4 linked regions of the Homo sapiens genome follow. The protein of the gene in region 1 interacts with the protein of each later gene in a biochemical or structural test. Each region holds a gene or a part of one and is shown in the gene's direction. Other genes may lie near its edges. The genes, in order: UBE2R2, CTNNB1, PRKN and RBX1.

Region 1 (5,309 bases):
GTCTCCCAAAGTGCTGGGATTACAGGCGTGAGCCACCGCGCCCAGCCAATTTTTGTATTTTTGGTAGAGATGGGGTTTCGCCATGCTGGTCTCAAACTCCTGACCTCAGGTGGTCCACCCGCCTTGGCCTCCCAAGTGCTAGGATTACAGGCGTGAGACACCGCGCCCAGCCCCAGTCAATTTTTTATCAGGATTGTACTATAGGAATAGTAAGTCTTCTCACTAGAAAATATACCTTGGAGATTGGTCGAAATAAATATTATATTTTAATGTTCCTAAGTAAACATAGGGATCGTTTGTTTCATCAGGATTGTTCTATAGGAATAGTAAGTCTTCTCACTAGAAAATATACCTTGGAGATTGGTCAAAATAAATACTTTTAAAATGCTTAATTATTATTTATCTTTGATGTTGAACATAAAAAGCAGAATTGTTTTCTCCTTTGATGAAGAAACAGTTTCTAGGAATAAAGGAAACTTTAGAACCGATGTCCCTTTTTGTACATCACTTTTTGAGTATTTACTGAATGTAATGTTTGTGTCTTGTAGAATGGAGATGTATGCATTTCGATTCTTCATCCGCCTGTAGATGACCCACAGAGTGGAGAACTGCCTTCTGAAAGGTGGAATCCTACTCAGAATGTGAGGTAAGGAGGAATCTGGTTTTGGAGTTATTCTTAATCTCCTTATTGTCTTTGCTCCTAGTAAAATAAAATTATGTATTGTCTTTTAACATGTAAAAAATCATCTTTCTTATATTCAGTTTCTTTGTCTTTAGCTAGAGCTTTAAGAAATATGTATGCGTCATTTTGAAGAGCTGTATTTACTAAACAATAATGTATATGATTCTCATTTCCCTATGTTCACTTAGGAATAGATTTTCAAGCCTGAATCCCTACTCTTAACTTATCCTAGTTCTACTCTGGTTCTTTATTACCACCTAACATTAGTGTCATTCATTGGTTGCAGTTAATAAACAATGTTAATTCATTATAAGTAACTGAAGTCCATACGCTTTCACATTTCCTTTGTTTTTACCTGTCGTTGTTTTGCTCCAAAATATTTCATACATATAAATATATATCTATATATGTACGTGTATACATATATGTATTTAAATTTTTTGTAGAGATGGGGTCTCACTAAGTTGCCCAGCTGGTCTCAAACTCCTGGCCTCAAGCAGTCCTCCCCACTTGGCCTCCCAAAGCGCTGGGATTATAGGCATGAGCCACTGTGCCCTGCTCATCACATTATATTTAATAGTCATGTCTTCATGGGCAACTCCTCTCTCTCTCTGTCTCTGTCTCTCTCTCTCTCTCTGTTTCTGTCTGTGTCTCTGTCTCTTGTCTTTGAGACAGTGTCTTCCCGTCACCCAGACTGGTGTGCAGCGGTGTGATCACAGGTCACTGCAGCCTCGACCTCCTGGGCTCAAGTGAGCCTTTCACCTCAGCCTCCCAAGTAGCTGTGACTATAGGTGTATGCCACCATACCTAGCTATTAAGCAACTCTTGATTATAAATTTTCTTGTTTTTGATGACAATTTTGGGGGGTACTGATCAGGTATTTTGTGCAATGTCCCCCAGTTGAGATTTTTCTTATGTGTTTTCTCATGATTAGTCTAGGGTTATAGGTTTGGGAGAGAAAGACCAGAGAAGTAATGTGCCATTTTCATTATGTCATATCTGAAGTATTTACTATCAGTGTGGCTTATCCCTGTTGATGGGATACCTTTCATCACCTGCCTGAAATAATATTTTTAGCTTTTCTCCACTGTAAAGTTGCTCTTTCCTGAACTTTTCATTCTGTACTCCTTGGAAGGAATATGCATAGCCCACAACTAAGGAGAGGGTGGCTATACCTCCTTGAAGCCAGGGTATCTATATAAATTATTTTGAATTCTTCTGCATGGATTGATCTATTCTTCCCCTTTATTTGTTTATTCAATCATTTGTTAAACATTTTTACTGATACAAAAACTAATAACTTGATTAGAATCTCCAGGTTTATCAAAAGTGAAGAATTGGAAGCTTCCTGACTTGTAATAGAAGCTCTTCAAGATGTGTCAAATGACTGTTGATTATGTTTGTTACTCATTCCTTTGGGTACCTTGTTCCATCCAATTTATTTAGAAAGAGTTGAGAAAATAGATATATTAAAGATTTCAGCATATCTTACCAATATATTTTTTAAGACAAAAAATGTTACTTTCTTTCTAAATTCAAATAAATGTGTTTTTACACCTCACCTTGACAACCATCATCCCTCTGAATGTTTTTTTCTCATATTTCTTTTTTTTTTTTTTTTTTTAAGACAGGATCTTGCTCTGTCGCCCAGGCTGGAATGAAGCGGCGCGGTCACGGCTCAGCACAGCCTCAACCTCCCGGGCTTGAGCAATCCTTCCACTTTAGTCTCTTGGGTAGCTGGGACCACAGGCATGCATCACGGTGTCTGCTCAAGATTTTGTATTTTTTTTGTAGAGAGATGGGGTTTTGCTTTGTTTCCCAGGCCAGTCTCAAACTACTGGGCTCAAGCAATCCACTTGGCCTCCCAGAATGCTCAGATTATAGGTGTGCCCCAAAGCACCTGGACTAATTTTTAAGTTTTTTGTAAAGATGGGGTCTCACCATGTTGCCCAGGCTGGTCTGAAACCCATGGGCTCAAGTGATGCCCCTGCCTCAGCCTCCCAAAGTGTTGGGATTACAGGTGCTCACACTACACCCGCCTTCTGAATCTCTTATCTATACAAGAATAATACCTACCTCAGTAGGTTGTTGATAGAATTTAAGTGAATAATGCATGTAAACCTACTAGAATGGTGGATATTACCTGGCTGGCTTGGGTTGCAGCTATTATTTTCAAGGAATTTTTTGGGTCTAATGTGAAGCAGTCATTTGCTATCTATTAGAAGAGAAACACATTTCTTAGTTCCTCATATTTATTTCATTTTGCTACAGGGAGACATAATTGCTAGATGCCTGTATCGTAACCAGTTCAAGTAGTACATAATTTATCTTGGGTTCTAAATACATGAAAAGAACTAAAATAATTGTTTTGAGCTGTTTTTGAGATATTCTGTAATTGAGAATACGCTTTCTTTTTTTGAGGGGAAAAGTGTCCTACGTAGCAAATTATGTATACATGAATTATCTCGATAGACTCAATTTTAAATTAGTATTAAAAATTCTGAGTTGTAGGCCGGGCGCAGTGGCTCACGCCTGTAATCCCAGCACTTTGGGAGGCCAAGGTGGGCAGATCACCTGAGGTCGGGAGTTCAAGACTAGCCTGACCAACATGAAGAAACCCTGTCTCTACTAAAAATACAAAATTAGCTGGGCATGGTGGCACCTGCCTGTAATCCCAGCTACTCGGGAGGCTGAGGCAGGAGAATTGCTTGAACCTGGGAGGCGGAGGTTGCGGTGAGCCAGGATCGTGCCACTGCACTCCAGCCTGGGCAACAAGAGTGAAACGCTGTCTCAAAAAAAAAAAAAGTCTGAGTTTTATGTATTCTATATTACTCAAGAGTATGTTTGAGGGTGCTACGTCTTCAGAAGTAATTGTAGCACATTATTTTGACATTATAATTAGACAATGTGTATAAAAGTTTTTAAAAAATATTTTGGATGATTTGTTGAAAAAATTGCATCCAAAAAAATCCCCAGTTGTACTTTAATAATGATTCTGGTGCATGGATTTTCAGGACGAGTAATAACCCTAGATTAGAGGAAGTGGTAGCTATAATACTGGTGATTCTTGGTTTTGCTGGTTGAACGTTGAATCAAATGCTTACACCCTCTCCCTATTTGAGAAAATAAGCTTCCCCTTTCCTCAAATACAAAGCCCCAAACAAGATTTTCCTCATTGCATTTTTATGCTGCTTGGCTGGATAATGTATTGCCACCACCCATGGGAATTCAGGCTTTTTATCCTTTACTTCTCTTGCATTTACACGCAAATGATGTCATTTGCCTTATCTCAGCTTAAAGTATTATGAACATTTTTTCTTTTAAAATAGGCCTACTTCTCATGTAATCCAGTCTTTTGGAGGCAGAGGATTCCTTTTATACTTATCTGCCCATCTGAAACTGCCTTTGTTACTTTGGGTACTAGCATCATTTTGTTTCCTCACACTTGAGTCCCCAGGCCACCTGAGCCACAATTTAGGGACATTCCCCATACTCAAATCAAGATTGTTTTCCCTGCTTTTATGCTGCTTTGTTTAGAAGCTTCCCAACTACAACTAGTTATGTGGAGTTACACCTAACATCTTCACACAGCTCTACAAGGTATTTGGGTTGGAAATTGTTTACCTTCTTAGACTTTTTATCACTTAGTTCTATGTAATCATTGGGTAGTCCTTCAACATTTTGATCTTATTGGTGTTTTCGGGGGCTGTGGGATGTTTTGTACACTTTTTGGAACCTCACCTGTCTGGAATACCTGGTGGTGCTCAGAACTCTGAGCGGAAGTCAGGAAAGCACTACCTAATGAGCAGATGTGGAATACTTTCGCTTATCCCTTTTGTTTCTGTGTTCACTTGGTTGTGAGACAAGGGAGGTTTTAAAGTAGTAAACTGTTATATTTTCTAACAGGTCATTTATGGCACTGAAATATTAAGAGGGAAGATACAAGATGTAGTGGAAATGGGCAACTATTTTCCTTCTTGTACCTCTCTGCTGCTAAATTATCTAGGGCCAGCAACTGTCTAAGGGTTCTGGGCTCCATGTCCAGTTTATGGGTGGCTGTAGTAAGACAGCAGTGGAGATGGCATAGGGTTCATCTCATCCTGTTTTGGAGTCTTATCTGCTGCCTCTCACTGGCATCTGAAAGTGATTCCATATTCACGTATTTGGTTTTCTTCTCCATAACCACGTGTACTCAAGACTATTGTTCAGCACCTCAATGGACATATTTATAACATAAAGTGGCAAATGGAGCACTTTTGTAACTTGAAGAATAAGGGACTCCAGTTACCTTCAAGAGTCTAAGTCAGTCTGTATTATCAGATCTGGTGAGTAGTGAGAGTTAGCCAACCTGAAAAGGAAGAATTTTAGGGATGCAGAGAATCAGCCAACTGGTGTTCACTAAAGGCTCGGTAGCTTGCTACCTCTTGGGAAAACCAGCATACTTCTTTTGAAAGAAAACATCCACAGGCCTCCTCCTCCCAGAGGCCCAGGATTAAATTGGTGGGGCTGGAGGTGGTGGGGAGAGTTTCTTCCTGAATTGGAAAGTTTTAAGGAGTAGGCATTTGTCAGCAAGAATGGAGTTGGGAGTTGCCACACGTCTTTGATTAGAAGTTCACAGCATTATGCC
Region 2 (5,309 bases), on another chromosome or scaffold:
GAATTTGAGTGGAATGCTTTAAAAGGACAAGTTGGATAGGGCCCCAGTATGGGGGTCTGAGTGATGGGGTCCAGGAATACATTTAGGTCCAATGGCAAGCTGGCTGAAATTCTTGTATAATAAAATAGGTTGGTAATATGGCTCTTCTCAGACATGTGATCAAGATTCCTTGACTAACAAGATATATATATATATCTTTCTAGCTCATCATACTGGCTAGTGGTGGACCCCAAGCTTTAGTAAATATAATGAGGACCTATACTTACGAAAAACTACTGTGGACCACAAGCAGAGTGCTGAAGGTGCTATCTGTCTGCTCTAGTAATAAGCCGGCTATTGTAGAAGCTGGTAAGTATATGTATCTATTCTGAGTCTTGTGTATAGCATCTGCAGTTCTAATTAGATTACTTTTCTTAGGAAAAGGTGGTAGAACTTTAACTACTGAAAATAAATGGTCCTATTCAGTTTGCAGCCAAGATTTACATTCAGAGTACCTGTCATCTGGATTGTAGCTAAATATTTAAGGCTAGTTTAGGTAGAGTTCTTATTATCCATCAAAAATGATGGCATATGTTTTGCTTAATAAAATTTGTTTGTAATTTCAGTTTTGAGTAAACCTAAGATTTGCTAACAGAGCTGTGAATTTATAGGAGAAAAGACAAATTCTAATATAGTACAGTTTTATGTAAAGTGATTGCTTTATTAGTAGATGCTCATGAGCAGTTTTTGTTTTGTTTTAACTTTTAGGTTCCGGGTAATGTGCAGGCTTGTTATATAGGTAAATTGCATGTCACAGGGGTTTCGTGTGCAGATTATTTTGTCACCCAGGCAGTAAGTATTGTACCCAATAGGTAGTTTTTCAGTTCTTTACCTCCCACCCGTAAGTAGGCCCCAGTGTCTGTTGTTCCCTTCTTTGTGCCCGTGTGTACTCAGTGTTTACCTCCCACTTATAAGTGAGAACATGTGGTATTTGGTTTTCTATTCCTATGTTAGTTTGCTTAGGATAATGGCCTCCAGCTCCATCCATGTTGCTGAGGAAGACATCTTGGTATTTTTTTATGGCTGCTTAGTATTCCATAGTATATATGTACCACATTTTCTTTATCTAGTCTACCATTGATGGGCATTTAGGTTAATTCCATATCTTTGCTATTGTGAATAATGCTGCAGTGAACATATGCATGCATGTGTCTTTATGGTAAAAAGATTTCTTTTTCTTTGGGCATATACCTAATAATAGGATTGCTGGATTGAATGGTAATTCTGTCAGGTTTTTTGAGAAATCACCAAATTGCTTTCCACAATGGCTGAACTAATTTACTTTCCCACCAGCAGTGTATAAGCATTCTCTTTTCTCAGCAACCTCACCAGCATCTGTCATTTTTTGACTTTTTATTAGTAGCCATTCTAACTGGTGTGAGACGGTATCTCATTGTGGTTTTGATTTGCATTTCTCTAATGATCAGTGATGTCGAGCTTTTCTTCATATGTTTCTTGGCCACTTGTATGTCTTCTTTTGAAAAGTGTCTGTTCATGTCCTTTGCCCACTTTTTAATGGGGTTGTTCTTTTTTGCTTGTTAATTTAAGTTTATTGTAAACTCTGGATATTAGACCTTTGTCAGATGCATAGTTTGCCAGTACTTTCTCCCATGCCAGTACTTTCTCCCATTCTGTAGGTTGTCTGTTTACTCTGTTGATTTCTTTTGCTGCGCAGAAGCTCTTTATACTGTCCCATTTGTCAGTTTTTGTTTTTGTTGCAACTTCTCTTGGCATCTTCGTCATGAAATCTTTGCCAGGTCTTATGTCCAGAATGGTATTTCCTAGGTTATCTTGCAGAGTTTTTACAGTTTTAAGTTTTATATTTAAGTCTTTAATCCATTCTGAGTTGATTTTTGTACATCATGTAAGGATGGGGTGCAGTTTCAATCTTGGATGTGGCTAGCCAGTTATCCCAGCACCATTTATTGAATAGGGAGTCCTTTCCCCATTGCTTGTTTTTGTTTACTTGTTAGGTGTGCGGCCTAACTTCTGGGCTTTCTTTTCTGTTCCATTGGTCTCTGTGTCTGTTTGTATACCAGTACCATGCTGTGATTGTAACCTTGTATTAACAGTATAGCTTGAAGTTGGGTAAAGTGATTCCTCCAGTTTTGTTCTTTTTGCTTAGGATTGCCTTGGCTATTCAGGCTCTTTTTTGGGTTCATATGAATTTTTAAATAGTTTTTTTTTAATTATGTGAAGAATGCCATTGGTAGTTTGGTAGGAATAGCATTGAATCTGTGAATTGCTTTGGGCTGTATGGCCATTTTAACAATATTGATTCTTCCTGCCATGAAATAGAATGTTTTTTCATTTGTTGGTGTCATCTCTGATTTCTTTGAGCAGTGTTTTTTGTAATTCTCATTGTAGAGATCTTTCACCTCCCTGGTTAGTTGTATTCCTAGGTATTTTATTCTTTTTGTGGCTTTGGTAAATGGGATTGCATTCTTGATTTGGCTTGCAGCTTGGATGTTGTTGGTGTCTAGAAATGCTTCTGACTTTTGTACATTGATTTTTATATCCTGAAACTTTGCTGAAGTTTATTGGATCAAGGAGCTTTTGGGCAGAGATTATGGGGTTTTCTAGGTATAGAATCATATTGTTTGCAAACAGACTTCCTATTTGGATGCATTTTCTTTCTCTTGCCTGATTATGAGCAGTGTTTTGCCCTGATATTCTGTATTCTCAGTGAATAGATGTCGTCTAAGTATGAGAAACAATTTTTTTCTATTCTGAGTATTTTTAAGAAGGCAACTTATATGTGGTACTTTGTATATTGTGTATGTTGGCAATTGGGGAAAAGAATAGATGGTTTGTACTAGGGCCTCTTGGGTTCTGTGTGTGTGTGTGTGTGTGTGTGTGTGTGTCATGAAAACAGTTACTTTTTAGCTACCAAGCATTTTTTCTCCTTTCAGTAACCCACCTAACAACATTTACTCAGAATTTCAAAGCAAGCTTCAAATCAGTATTGAAAGAAGGAAAAATATAAAGGCATTTAATGGAAGAAAATGTTGGGAATAAAGTATAGGGCTGGCAACACTTACTTTTCTCACTTATTGAGAGTAATTTTACTTGGGAATTTATGAGAGAGAAAGACATTATGATTGCTCCAGGTAACTACTGGCAGAGGAACCATAGTCTTGGGGATAGACAAATGTGGCTGAGTTCATATAGAATGAGGGGATGGGATGTAAATTCTGTCAGCTGTTCCAGCAGTAACCTGTAATGTAGGCTAAAAATACAGATTTTGAGATTTATTTAATCAGAATCCCTGGAGTGTTAATTTTTATATCAAGATCTCATAGTGTTTTATTTGAAGTGACAGGGAGGTCTGTAGATAGCTGGACATGTATGGGACTGGAAGCTTAGGAATCTTTAAGTTCTTCCAGGTTATTCTTATGTTCATTTGTTTATTCTGAAAATAGCATCTAATGTATTTTAAGAAATGGAATAGGCACATAGTATACATTGGGTAACACAACAGATAGGGTCCCCGTGCTTAATTCTTAGTCTTGTGAAGGTGACAAAAATACTTAAAAATATGTGATCCTAAATTAGAATGAGTGTTATGGGAGAAATGACAGCAAATAGTGATGAGAATTAATGGGGAGGGGAATTGTCTAGATGAGAGGGAAAAGGTCTCCTTGAAAAGGGGATGTTAAGTGGGACTGCAGGATGAGAGGGAACCGTCTCTTGTCTATATGAGAAGTGAGGGTTAAACGTTTTCCAGGTAGAGAAAAGGAACACCATGTGCTATGTCTTAGAACCAGGGATATCCAGTCTTTTGGCTTCCCTGGGCCACATTGGAAGAAGAATAATTGTCTTGGGCTACACACCAAATACACTAATGATAGCTGATGAGCTAAAACAAAAAAAAATTGCAAAAGAATCTCATAATGTTTAAGAAAGTTTACGAATTTGTGTTGGGCTACATTCAGAGCTGTCCTAGGCCATGTGGCCCATGGGCTGCAGGTTGGACAAGCTTGCCTTAGAAGGAAAGAGATTGGTCAGGCACGGTGGCTCACGCCTGTAATTCCAGCACTTTGGGAGGCTGAGGTGGGCGGATCATGAGGTCAGGAGATCGAGACCAGCCTGGCTAACACAGTGAAACCCCATCTCTACTAAAAATACAAAAAGTTAGCCGGGCGTGGTGGCAGGCGCCTGTAGTCCCAGCTACTTGGGAGGCTGAGGCAGGAGAATGGTGTGAACCCGGGAGGCGGAGCTTGCAGTGAGCTGAGATAGCGCCACTGCACTTCAGCCTGGGCGACAGAGTGAGACTCTATCTCAAAAAAAAAAAAAAGGGAAAGAGATTGTGGAGATCCAGGTGCTGAAGAGAAGGTCTGCATAAACAGAACTTAGTAATGAGGTGGATGGCCTGGTATGAGGTTGAGGTTAGGTAAGCAGAGCCATAACATGCAGGACTTTCTAGGTTCCTATAAGATAGTTACTACTCATGGAGTTTATTCATGCTTTATTCCAGCTTTGGAGCCATAGATACAGAATACTTTGGTCAGTTTGGAAGGCTAGGTGGGATCCAAATTCTAAACGGTTCCTCAGGGTTATACTAAAGTATTTCTATTATCTTAAAAGGATGCTGAGACACTTTCGATGGTTGTTTATCAATAGCAAAGCATCACAGTGGTGTGTTTAAAATATTAATAATAGCATTGTATAGATTAACAGTTTGAATGACCAAAAGCTAGAAGACCAGACTACTGAGATGTTACAGGCTTTTAGGAATGAAATAGTTTGCTTTTAGAACTCAATAGCAAAGGGCAGATGTCTGAGATGCCTGAAAGAATCATAGAATGTAATAATATAGGAGCTAAGGGAGCAACCAAAAACGGTTTGTGGAGGGGACAACATTGGTACCATGAAGATAAATGGAACCCTCAGAAGGCATCCTTAATTTTTGAACATAATAATTTAAGAAGCTGACTTAAAGTGACTTAAAAGGTCAGTAGGTAGCTGGAAATGTATGATACTAGAATGCAAGAGAGGCAGGCTAGAGATTTGGAAGTTTCCCTCTTAGTATATAGGGGTAAGGGCAGCAGGGAAGGGGAGGTAGAGGTGCCACAGAGTCATCTGTATGGGACTTTTTTTTTTACCCTAGAACTGCTGAATCAGAATGTGTGTGTTTTAAAGTCTCTGTAGGCCATTCTGATGGACATCTGGGGTTAAAATCCATTCTCTTAGAGTTAATAGTTATGTAAAGGGAGGGAATGAAGTCTTAAAGAGGGGAAAGAAGGTAGTCATTTCACAAATACTGAGCA
Region 3 (5,309 bases), on another chromosome or scaffold:
TAACAGATTAACTCAAATGTCTGTTTTTCACCAAATAGAAACCTTTTTTCCTTGAATGAATAGGTATTTATGATTATTATTTCAGTGTCATTTCTTTATACCATATGTATTAGATGGTGCTGGGTAGGGATGGGTACACATAGGTTGTATTTGTCTATATATTGCCTGTGGGGAAGGTACATAGAAATGACCATTTCTTCCCAATAAGTTTGTGGCCTAGTTGGGCTGATTAGGCTTATATTGGTGGTATAGATTGCACCTTCACCACCACAGAAGAAGAGTAATTAGAAAGATGTATGTACATATCAGCACACACATACATGCCTGCAACACGTGATTTTTCATGTTTCTTTTGTTCATTTGATTCTCGTTGATCTGAATGCCCTTTCTTTCTGTTGAACATCTCAAAACTACTGTTCATCACTCAAGATCCAGTTCCAATGGCACCAACTTTATGTGAAATTTTCCATGTCACCTCTTACCCTCTTTTTAGTGTGAGGCAATTAGCACCTCCTTTAGAGTCAGCCAACATTTTAGTAACTACCCTTCATCAGGTCCTTGTTCATAGTCTAGAAGGGGTACAGAAAAGTAAAGATTTACAAACCTGAAAGGTGGGTATCATAATATAGGTTTATACAAGGAAGTACTGGAAAACTCAGCCTATAGAGCTTGGAAGATCCAGCTGTTTCCCAGTGGAGCCATTCCAGTTTTCCTGCAGGACAAGTAGGAGTTAACTAGGTGAAGGCGGCCTTCTAGACAGGCATGGAGGGGAGAGAAGAGAATAGAATGAAAGGTATCTGGTGAGGCTGCAGGCACACCAGATAAGCTTTGTCAAGGAGGTAGGTTTAAAGTTGGCGATAGGGAGGAGTCACTGAACCATTATCTACAAAAGAGCATTATGAACAGGTTGTATTTTAGAAAGATGTCTGTGGCAGTACTAGAAAGTTATGAAATAGAACGTTGTAGAAAATAGTTACACTAGTGCCAGCAAGTCCAGATAAAGTGTTAATAGAGGACTTCTCATGACCTTCATTGTACTTCTTAGATAAAACAGAATACTTGAAATCACTAGTTACGGAGAACAAGCGTTTATAAACTCACTCCATAAAACAAAGGAAAGAAGTCCAGATAATGTTTAATAGAGGACAGTCTTCGACTGAGAATGGCAGGGTAATTGTGCAGTAGGAGATGGCTTTTCTCAGGGTGTTGACATTGATTTGATATGTCATTACATCATCTCTGATTAAAGGCCATATTTCTTTTTAAAAAGTTCTTATTTTTGTAGAATAGATTAATGTCTCTTATTGACAGGTGTTTTATTTCATGTTACTAAAGCTTTATTTGTATTCCAAAAATAGTTTGTATCTCCTTCTTTGATATGTGGAACATGATGCTTAGGGTTCTATTTATAGTTTCTTCTCTGTGTGGAGAGAACAATGTCATCAGAGCTGTGGATATCGTGTCACCCAGAATAGTGCAGAATAGTTTCTTCCTCTTAGATATCTGCATGACTCATATACCTAGGCACATATTAAGACCATCTATGGGCCGGGCGCGGTGGCTCACGCCTGTAATCCCAGCACCTTGGGAGGCCGAGGCGGGTGGATCATGAGGTCAGGAGATCGAGACCATCCTGGCTAACAAGGTGAAACCCCGTCTCTACTAAAAATACAAAAAATTAGCCGGGCGCGGTGGCGGGCGCCTGTAGTCCCAGCTACTCGGGAGGCTGAGGCAGGAGAATGGCGTGAACCCGGGAAGCGGAGCTTGCAGTGAGCCGAGATTGCGCCACTGCAGTCCGCAGTCCGGCCTGGGCGACAGAGCGAGACTCCGTCTCAAAAAAAAAAAAAAAAAAAAAAAGACCATCTATGGACAGATGTGTGTATTTTTAAGAGTATTGATGGCTTCTTGATGATTCTCTCCAATTTACTTTTACTGTAAGACCTGAACAGAGGCCCCCATAAAGTTTCACATGAGAGCCCTTAACTTTGGAGGAGAGAATGTTCAATAGTTAGCAGCCTCACCCATTTTGCACATCTCTACTCCTACCCTCATCAAATGAGGGGGAAAATTGGTGATTAGGGAGTTAATATTGGTGTCCTGATTGAGACTTTTTATTATTTATTTACATAATTGTTGAATACGCCAGTTACTCCTATTGTGAGATATTTTTGGAGTTTCAGTGCATAAATAAGATCTTGTGATGAAGCCCTCTGTAACTGCGTAGTCATTTTTAAAGCTTATTGTACCCGCAGAGTAGATCCATTTTCCAGATCATGAAATGATAGGAAGTAGACACCTGAAACTTGCTCGTATTAATAAAATGGAGAAATAGGAAGGAACATTTGTAATATCTGTGTTTCTGAGGTCAACCTTTAGTTTTTTTTTTTTTTTTTTTTTTTTTGACATCTACCTGCACTCCCTCTTTTCTGTCCCCTCATTTTTTTCTTACCCACATTCCTTGATTTTCTCAGAAGCTGGAATTTAATATTTCATTCTTCAGCTCAAAGGAGCAGCTGTTGTCTGAACAACAGGTGAATTTCTTCCTTACTTGTTGCCACAGGGCTTGACTGTGGGTTGTAATGTTTCTGAGGGTTATCACAGGAGTGGCCTGACCGGAACAGACCAGGCTTCACCACAGCTCCTACTGGAGACATTCCCTAGATTGGGAATTGTCTGCAATGGAAATCTTTGTAGTCTCTGGCTCTGCATTTTCCTTCCAGGCAAATCCAGTCCTGATTACAATTTTTTTTTTCCATTGAAACAAAATTGAGGAATGATGAACTCTGGGCAGCTAGAGGATGGGGGCAAGTTAGGTTTGCTCCTTGGAGAATTAGACAGATTTAAGAATAATATTCCCTGTGCCCTGGGTCTTCTCTCCACCCTTGAAATTCGACCTCCTTTCTCCTGAAAGTCCTTTATAGCTCTCTGGTGAGTTCCCAGAGTGTGAGAGGTACAGATTTAAGCACAAGTGAGGTCATGTTCTCTGAGGTGCTGCTTCTCTGGGCTCCTGACCACAGACAAATGTAGACTGCATGATCCAGTTGATATTCACCAAATTTGTATAATTACATGTGACAATATATAAAGACGTTTTTACATGAATATGTCTGAATTCATAGGATCAGATGGGAAGTATATGTGTTTTATTGGGCAGTCAATTTAGACATAATCATATGATACAGAGAGTGATATTTCGTAGAGATCTGTTGTGGGCTTTCCACTCTTGTTCATTTAGGAATCTGTGAGATGCTCAACCTATGATTGGAATTGGAATTTCTTCCTTTTGTCCCTCTCTAGAGTTTTCTCCATTATTCATTGTCCCTTTCTCGTGTGTGTGTGTGTGTATGTGTGTGTGGCATCTGCCGTGTCTCACTACATGCAGAGCTTCTGACATAGGTATTGACTTTTATATCATCTTGATTTCAAAGAAGTCACCAAATAATCTTATTCTCAGTGTCTTGAGTTTTATACCAAGTCTCTGTGCTTGTTTTTTATGTTCTGGCAATTTCTGGGCATTGTTGCCCATTTTAGAACTCTATTTTGTTTTGTGGGGGACAGTTCTGGAATAAATTTTTTTTTTTTTGAGACGGAGTCTTGCTGTGTTGCCCAGGCTGGAGTGCAGTGGCGTGATCGCGGCTCACTGTAAGCTCCGCCTCCCAGGTTCACGCCATTCTCCTGCCTCAGCCTCCCGAGTAGCTGGGACTACAGGCGCCTGCCACCATGCCCAGCTAATTTTTTTTGTATTTTTAGTATAGACGGGGTATCACCGTGTTAGTCAGGATGGTCTCGATCTCCTGACCTCGTGATCCACCTGTCTCGGCCTCCCAAAGTGCTGAGATTACAGGCATGAGCCACCGCGCCTGGCCTCTGGAATAATTTTTAATGGAGATTCAACATCTAAGAAACTTTCATATTGGATCAAGACATAGTTGTCACAATTCTTAGTGTGTAAATTCATTAAAAGTCCCTTCTGGCTTTTGCAGCCAATTTAATCATCTTATGCTTAATAGAATGCAAGTTATACAGGTAAAGTCAGTCAGAGAGGGGATGGGGATGCTATTTGAGATGAAGTTCCTAGAAGTAATAAGATTTTTTTTGTCTTAAAACAGTGATGATAGGATGATTAAGTGATCTAAGATGGACAAATATGTGTGAGTTCTTAATAATTGGGAAAGATCTTTTTTAAAAAGTGTTAATGTGACCATTTAGTTACCATAACTGGAAACTAGATAGCATTAGGGGCCATTTGTATATGTAAAAATATCAGGAAGTATACCGGCAAATTATATCTTTGGGTTGTGGGATGTTTTCTTTTATTATGATTGTGTTTTTCAGATCTTCAGCGTTAAGCGTATAATGTTTTGGAAATACTGAAAAGCAATGTGTTATAAACACAATCTTCAGGACAAATGCATTGTGGTAATACATTTAAAACGGATTCTACTTTTGTGTCAAATTATGTCAGATAAATTTTCAATGGTAGCATACTATGCTCATGTTCTGGTCATAAAAGTAGTGTTTTCAGGAAAACAAACATTAGAACCATAATTTCACTTTCTTTAATATTATACACTATCGGGGCATGGCCAGATTACTGTATTAGTTTTTGTGTAGTTCCTGTTGTTGCTGTAACGAATTACCACAAGTTTAGTGACTTTTAAACACAAATTTATTTTCTTACAGTTCTGGAGGCCCAAAGTCCAAAATGACTTTTTTTTTTTTTTTTTTTTGAGACAAGATCTCCCTCTGTCACTCAGACTGGAGTGCAGTGGCACAAACACAGCTCACTGCAACCTTGAATTCCTGGGCTCAACTTCCCGAATAGCTGGGACTATAGGTGCATGCCAACCTGCCTGGCTAATTTTTTTATTTTTTATTTTTTGTAGAGACAGGATCTTGCTATGTTGCCCAGACTAGTCTTGAACTCTTGGGCTCAAGTCATCTTCCCACCTCAGTCTCCCAAAGTTGTCAGATTACAGGTGTGAGCCACTGTGCCCAGCCCCAAAGTGACTAAAAGGGACTAAAATCAAGGTGTTCGCTGGGCTAGCCCCTTCCATTAATAGAAGCTCCTGTGGAGACTCCTCTTTCACTTCTGGAGGCTGCTGGCATTCCTTGGCTCCTGGCCACATCACTCCAGTCTCTGCTGCTGTGGTCACATTGCCTTCTCCTTTACTGCCATCAAATCTTGCTCTGCCTTCCTCTTAAAAGAACACATGGGGTTACATTCAGGAGCCACCAGGATAGCCTCTTCGTCTCCAGATCCTTAATCACATCTGCAAAGTCCCTTTTGTCATATCGGGAAACAGTCG
Region 4 (5,309 bases), on another chromosome or scaffold:
AGATTGAAACGTTGCTGCTCCCAAGGTCCAGTGATCCTGTTGCTCTTGTTCCCACAGGCATAGAATGTCAAGCTAACCAGGCGTCCGCTACTTCAGAAGAGTGTACTGTCGCATGGGGAGTCTGTAACGTAAGGAAGCATCTTTACCTGTCAGCATGGCTTGTAAACATATTTCCACTTTTCCTGCTTTGCTAGTCTTGAAAATAACTAGGGAAAAAAATGACTAGTCCACCTTTCTCCCAAAAGGTATACAAATAGTAAAAAAGATTTTAAATCATAATACTATTCACCTGTTACAGGGTAAAAATTACAGTTACTGCAAAGAGGCACTTATTTGTCTTAATTATAAAGTGGACCCAATTTTGTTAGCAGTATTTTGGGGCTTCATCTATGGGAATTGCCTTCAAAACCTACATGCACCCTTTGGAATATTCTCGTGGTAGAACTTTGTACCTTTGAAACAGGCTTTTTTAAAGACCAGGTGTCTAATGGAACTAAGTTTGATGAGTAAATTGAGTGTTGAAGTCTCTGTGTATGTGTGTTTTAAGTGTGGCGTATGTACTGAGATAAGATTATTTTTTAACATGGCTTATGCCAGAAATGTTTTGTGTAGCTTTATTGGACTGAATGGCCTTCCAAGAGTGTGACAGCTGTGAAGGATAACAAATATCAAATATGTTAGTTCTAGCATGTGTTAAAAATTCATTCTTTAAGCTGTAAAGTCCCAGTCACATGAGCTAAAATTGTCTTGTCAGGGCCTCCTGTGTCATGGGGACAGAATACTCACAGTTCCCAGCATGACACAGGGATAAGAGATTCTAGAGTCAGACCACCATTCCCTGTCTTTGTGACTTACTTGCTAAGTGACGTTAGGCAAGGCATTTAACGTCTCCAATCCTGGGTTCCCTCATAAAATGGGGCTGATAGTGGACCACATAAAATTGTAATCCGGATTAGATGATTTATGTTAAAATGTGATTAAACAACTCCCGGCACATAGTAAGCACAAGTGCTTGTTAAAAAAAATCTAAATAGGCCGGACGCGGTGGCTCACGCCTGTAATCCCAGCACTCTGGGAGGCCGAGGCGGGTGCATCATGAGGTCAGCAGATGGAGACATCCTGGCTAACACAGTGAAACCCCGTCTCTACTAAAAATACAAAAAATTAGCCGGGTGTGGTGGCAGGCGCCTGTAGTCCCAGCTACTCGGGAGGCTGAGGCAGGAGAATGGCGTGAACCTGGGAGGTGGAGCTTGTAGTGAGCCGAGACCACACCACTGCACTCCAGCCTGGGTGACAAAGTGAGACTCTGTCTCAAAAAAAAAAAAATCTAAATAAATACAAATTTGAGGTAGAGGTGTTACTGTGTAGATGGTGTTCTCAGTAGTTTTTCCTGTTGGGTTGCAACTCTTTTTCCTACCTACACTGGTTTTTTGTTTTTTTTTTTGTTTTTTGTTTTTTGTTTTTTTTTTGAGACGGAGTCTCACTATGTGGCCCAGGCTGGAGCGCAGTGACGCAGTCCCGGCTTACTGCAACCTTTATCTCCTGGGTTCAAGTGATTGTCCTGCTTCAGCCTTCCGAGTAGCTGGGATTACAGGTGTGTACCACCACACCCAGCTAATTTTTGTATTTTTAGTAGAGATGGGGTTTCGCCATGTTGGCCAGGCTGGTCTTAAACTCCTGACCTTGGGGCGATCTGCCAGCCTCGGCCTCCCAAAGTGCTGGGATTACAGGCGTGAGCCACCGTGCCCAGCCCCTACCCGCACTTTCGGGTACACCTTCTTCCATCTTTGTTGGGACCCTTTGGCCAGGCTCACAATAGACCATGTTGGCCATGGGGGAGCTTTAATCGTTCATGGGGATAAAGGAAGTATATTGGGCTCTTTGCCCTTTCTGGCATACAGACATATACTAAGAACCATGTTCCTTTATGTGGAAAGAAAAGAGAGTGAACATCCCCTTAAATTTGGCTAAGGAGAGATTCTCTGAGAGAGCCTGCCGTAGAAGAGAGCCAGCATGGTGTGGCAGAAGGCTCTGGATTAGTCCTGGGTTCTAGTTCTGGGTCTTCTACAAACCAGCTCCATGAATTAGGCAAGTCACTTGTCTGGGTTTCAGTTTCCTGTCTGTAAAATGAAGATAAAAATATCTGTCATGCTTGCCTGCCAGGGTTGATGTGAGGCCTCAAATGAGGTAATACATGTCAACATCTTCTGTAAACTGTCAAGTACTATAAATTTATCTTCTGTAAATTGTACTTTGACCGCTAAATATATCCATTAATACATCTTAGTAAATGTTCAGGGGTGCTGTCACCTCCCTGACACCTCCTTTACAGCCCCCTTTTCCCCAGCGCGTGGTATGCTCTGACTTAGTTGGGCTCTACCAGGACACCGTACTGCTGCAAAGTGCTCAGTGGGTGAGGTGGGAGAGGGAGAAGCTGTCGAATACCCTTCGGTGAGCCCGACCCCAACACCTGATGGTTAAGAAAAATGTCTCTGCTTTCTGCCTTTTGGAAATTTTGCTCTTTCTCTTTTTCACAGTGAGTTATACAAGAGTCAGCTGAAAAGGGATCTTCCAAAAGGCTGTCACTCTAAGAGAATATTTGTCCTCTTGGGTATCCCTAGTGTACTAGCTGTGGATTCCACTCTTAGTTACTGAATTATATTTTTGTCTTTGTCAAAAAACATTTCACAAGATAATAATCCATATTATATAATCCCTTAAGTTCCATACATACTTTGGGAGACGTACCGACCAGATTTCAGTTGTTATTAAATGAAGCTTGTAAAGCTTTTGTTGTTTTGTTAGGGTGAGTAATTTCTGCCCGTGCCCCACCACAGTGCACCAATCACAGACGAAATGAAGGAAGCACTTGCTGCGTCTGTCCTAATACGCACATGAGCAGGGGGAGAAGTGCTCATTGCAGAAGCATTGTGATTAGCATCTGCATGTCATGAGCCCACGCCAAAAAACTGCATGCAGATTGTCCTTTTCCCAAATCTAAGCAGACTTCTAGCTCCCTGTCAGTTACCAGTGTTCTTGATACTCTTGTCTTTTTACTTCTTGTCTTGATTATGAAATAAGCCTTTTGATGCTCTTTAGGCTGCTTGTGTGCCGTTTGTCCCTCATAAGAATACTTCCTTTTACCCCAATTTTCTTTTATCTCATTCCCTAAGACAAAGTCCCTCACCCATTAAAGGCACGTGAAGTACTGAGCTCTTGTAATATCAATATGTCTGTGAATAAATCTAGAAATAAAGTTTCTTTGACCAGAGCTGAGCTGGGTGTGGGGAGGTTGGGGAAGTGCCCGTCTCAGTTCTGGGTGGGCGGCAGTGACCATGCACTTCTCTACCAAGGGCTGGGGAGAAGGCTCTGCTCCTACAGGTCGCATTCTCCAGGGGCAGGAGGGTGGGAGGGAAGCTAGAGACCCAGAATGGGGATATTTGAAATCTGCATTGATGAGGGGCCTCCTTTCCCAAAGAAAGTGGAAGTATCCCCTTACAGGCTGAATGGGACCAAGGAGCCACATTCCACGTTCTCTTAAATAGAAGAGAGCTCAGTGCTGGCACATACTCCTGTGCTTCCTGAATGATTTCCTTTAGTAGTAATGACATTTCTAACAAATGCTTTGTTGGAAATACCCTTGCATCTAACCAAGATATAATCAGTTGTTGAACTTTTGCCTCTCGTTGTCTTCTTTTCTTTTCTTGCCCACTATATGTCACCCATGCCACTACCCTGTGGGACCTGTTGTCGCTCGATGGCTGAGCCTGCATAGAGTTATTTTTAATAAAATATATGTTTTCTTTCAGCATGCTTTTCACTTCCACTGCATCTCTCGCTGGCTCAAAACACGACAGGTGTGTCCATTGGACAACAGAGAGTGGGAATTCCAAAAGTAGGTATCTTTGGTTGTTTTGACGGGGCTTTTTGACTTGCCTCAGGCTGAAAGGAGCGTGGTCTTGGGGGATGGAGACATGATACATGCCTTGTTTTTTTTAAAACTAGTTTTTGGTTACTTAAGCTAGGACTTATCTATATGGAAAATGCACAAAGGATTAGCCAACATTAGACATTTGCAGCCTAGGGTTTCCCAACCTTTTTTTTTTTTTTTTTTTTTTTGAGACGGAGTCTCGCTTTGTTGCCCAGGCTGGAGTGCAGTGGTGCTATCTTGGCTCACTGCAACGTCCACCTCCCAGATTCAAGCGATCCTCCCACCTCAGCCTAGCAAGTGGCTGGGATTACAAGTGTGTGCCACCATGCACAGCTAATTTTTGTATTTTTCGTAGAGATTGGGTTTCACCATGTTGGCCAGGCTGGTCTTGAACTCCTGATCTCAACTGATCTGCCTGCCTCGGTCTCCCAAAGTGCTGGGATTACAGGTGTGAGCCACCGTGCCCGGCAGGTTTCCCAACCTTCTACGGTCTGTGAAAGTAGAAAATGTGATAATCTATGAACTCTTAAATATTTCCAGAATTACATCCTAATGAGGCTCCATGGACTACCTAATGTCAGGTAGCTTTGGGCTAGACTTGTATCCACTTATCATATTTCACTGGTTTATTTCACAGTGATTAATTCTGATATAGCATTTATGGCTATCCTGATTAGATTTTATTGTTATATAAATAAAACATGACCTGGTAAACTTTTAAAAATTTAAATGGTTGAAAGGGTATACCACAGAATATGAATTTCCCACTGTAGGCCCCTGCTCCGGCTTGCTGGAGCTAGCCATCAGCAACAGGACAGCTTCTTAGGAGATTTTCTGACTATCTCTTATATGTCCCGGTATTTACATGGTTGTGTGTATATATATATTTTTGTTAACATAAAAGTGAGTATCCTATACAGTAATTCACCTTTTTTTTTTTTTTCATTTTGTACATTTTGGAGATTTTCCATTTCCACAAATAACAAACTACCTCATTTCTAATGGTTGCAGAGTATTTCTTTATGTAAATGTACCTTAACTTTTTTCTTTTCTTTTTTTATTTGTTTGCATGTTTTTAACATTTTTTATATTTTTTAAAAAGTCAGTCCCTGGCCAGGCACGGTGGCTCACGCCTGTAATCCCAGCACTTTGGGAGGCCGAGGCAGGCGGATCACCTGAGGTTGGGTGTTCAAGGCCAGCCTGGCCAACATGGAGAAACCCCGTCTCTACTAAAAATGCAAAATCAGCTGGGCGTGGGGGCACATACCTGTAATCCCAGCTACTTGGGAGGCTGAGGCAGGAGAATACTTGAACCCAGGAGGCGGAGATTGTGGTGGGCTGAGATCGCACCATCGCACTCCAACAAGAGCGAAACTCC

What was found.
Region 2: of the proteins of UBE2R2 (region 1) and CTNNB1, one has a biochemical effect on the other in vitro, tested with the Homo sapiens proteins (one study listed by BioGRID).
Region 3: the proteins of UBE2R2 (region 1) and PRKN form a complex in vitro, tested with the Homo sapiens proteins (one study listed by BioGRID).
Region 4: the proteins of UBE2R2 (region 1) and RBX1 form a complex in vitro, tested with the Homo sapiens proteins (10 studies listed by BioGRID).

What each region holds. Positions count from the first base shown.
Region 1 is NC_000009.12:33,899,626-33,904,934, forward strand, and holds part of UBE2R2 (ubiquitin-conjugating enzyme E2 R2), read left to right. Parts: intron 1-548; coding exon 549-646; intron 647-5,309. UniProt on the Homo sapiens protein: E2 ubiquitin-conjugating enzyme that accepts ubiquitin from an E1 ubiquitin-activating protein, and catalyzes its covalent attachment to other proteins by an E3 ubiquitin-protein ligase complex.
Region 2 is NC_000003.12:41,227,005-41,232,313, forward strand, and holds part of CTNNB1 (catenin beta-1), read left to right. Parts: intron 1-203; coding exon 204-348; intron 349-5,309. UniProt on the Homo sapiens protein: Key downstream component of the canonical Wnt signaling pathway.
Region 3 is NC_000006.12:162,716,987-162,722,295, reverse strand, and holds part of PRKN (E3 ubiquitin-protein ligase parkin), read left to right. Parts: intron 1-5,309. UniProt on the Homo sapiens protein: Functions within a multiprotein E3 ubiquitin ligase complex, catalyzing the covalent attachment of ubiquitin moieties onto substrate proteins. Substrates include SYT11 and VDAC1.
Region 4 is NC_000022.11:40,963,990-40,969,298, forward strand, and holds part of RBX1 (E3 ubiquitin-protein ligase RBX1), read left to right. Parts: intron 1-57; coding exon 58-128; intron 129-3,809; coding exon 3,810-3,895; intron 3,896-5,309. UniProt on the Homo sapiens protein: E3 ubiquitin ligase component of multiple cullin-RING-based E3 ubiquitin-protein ligase (CRLs) complexes which mediate the ubiquitination and subsequent proteasomal degradation of target proteins, including proteins involved in cell cycle progression, signal transduction, transcription and transcription-coupled nucleotide excision repair.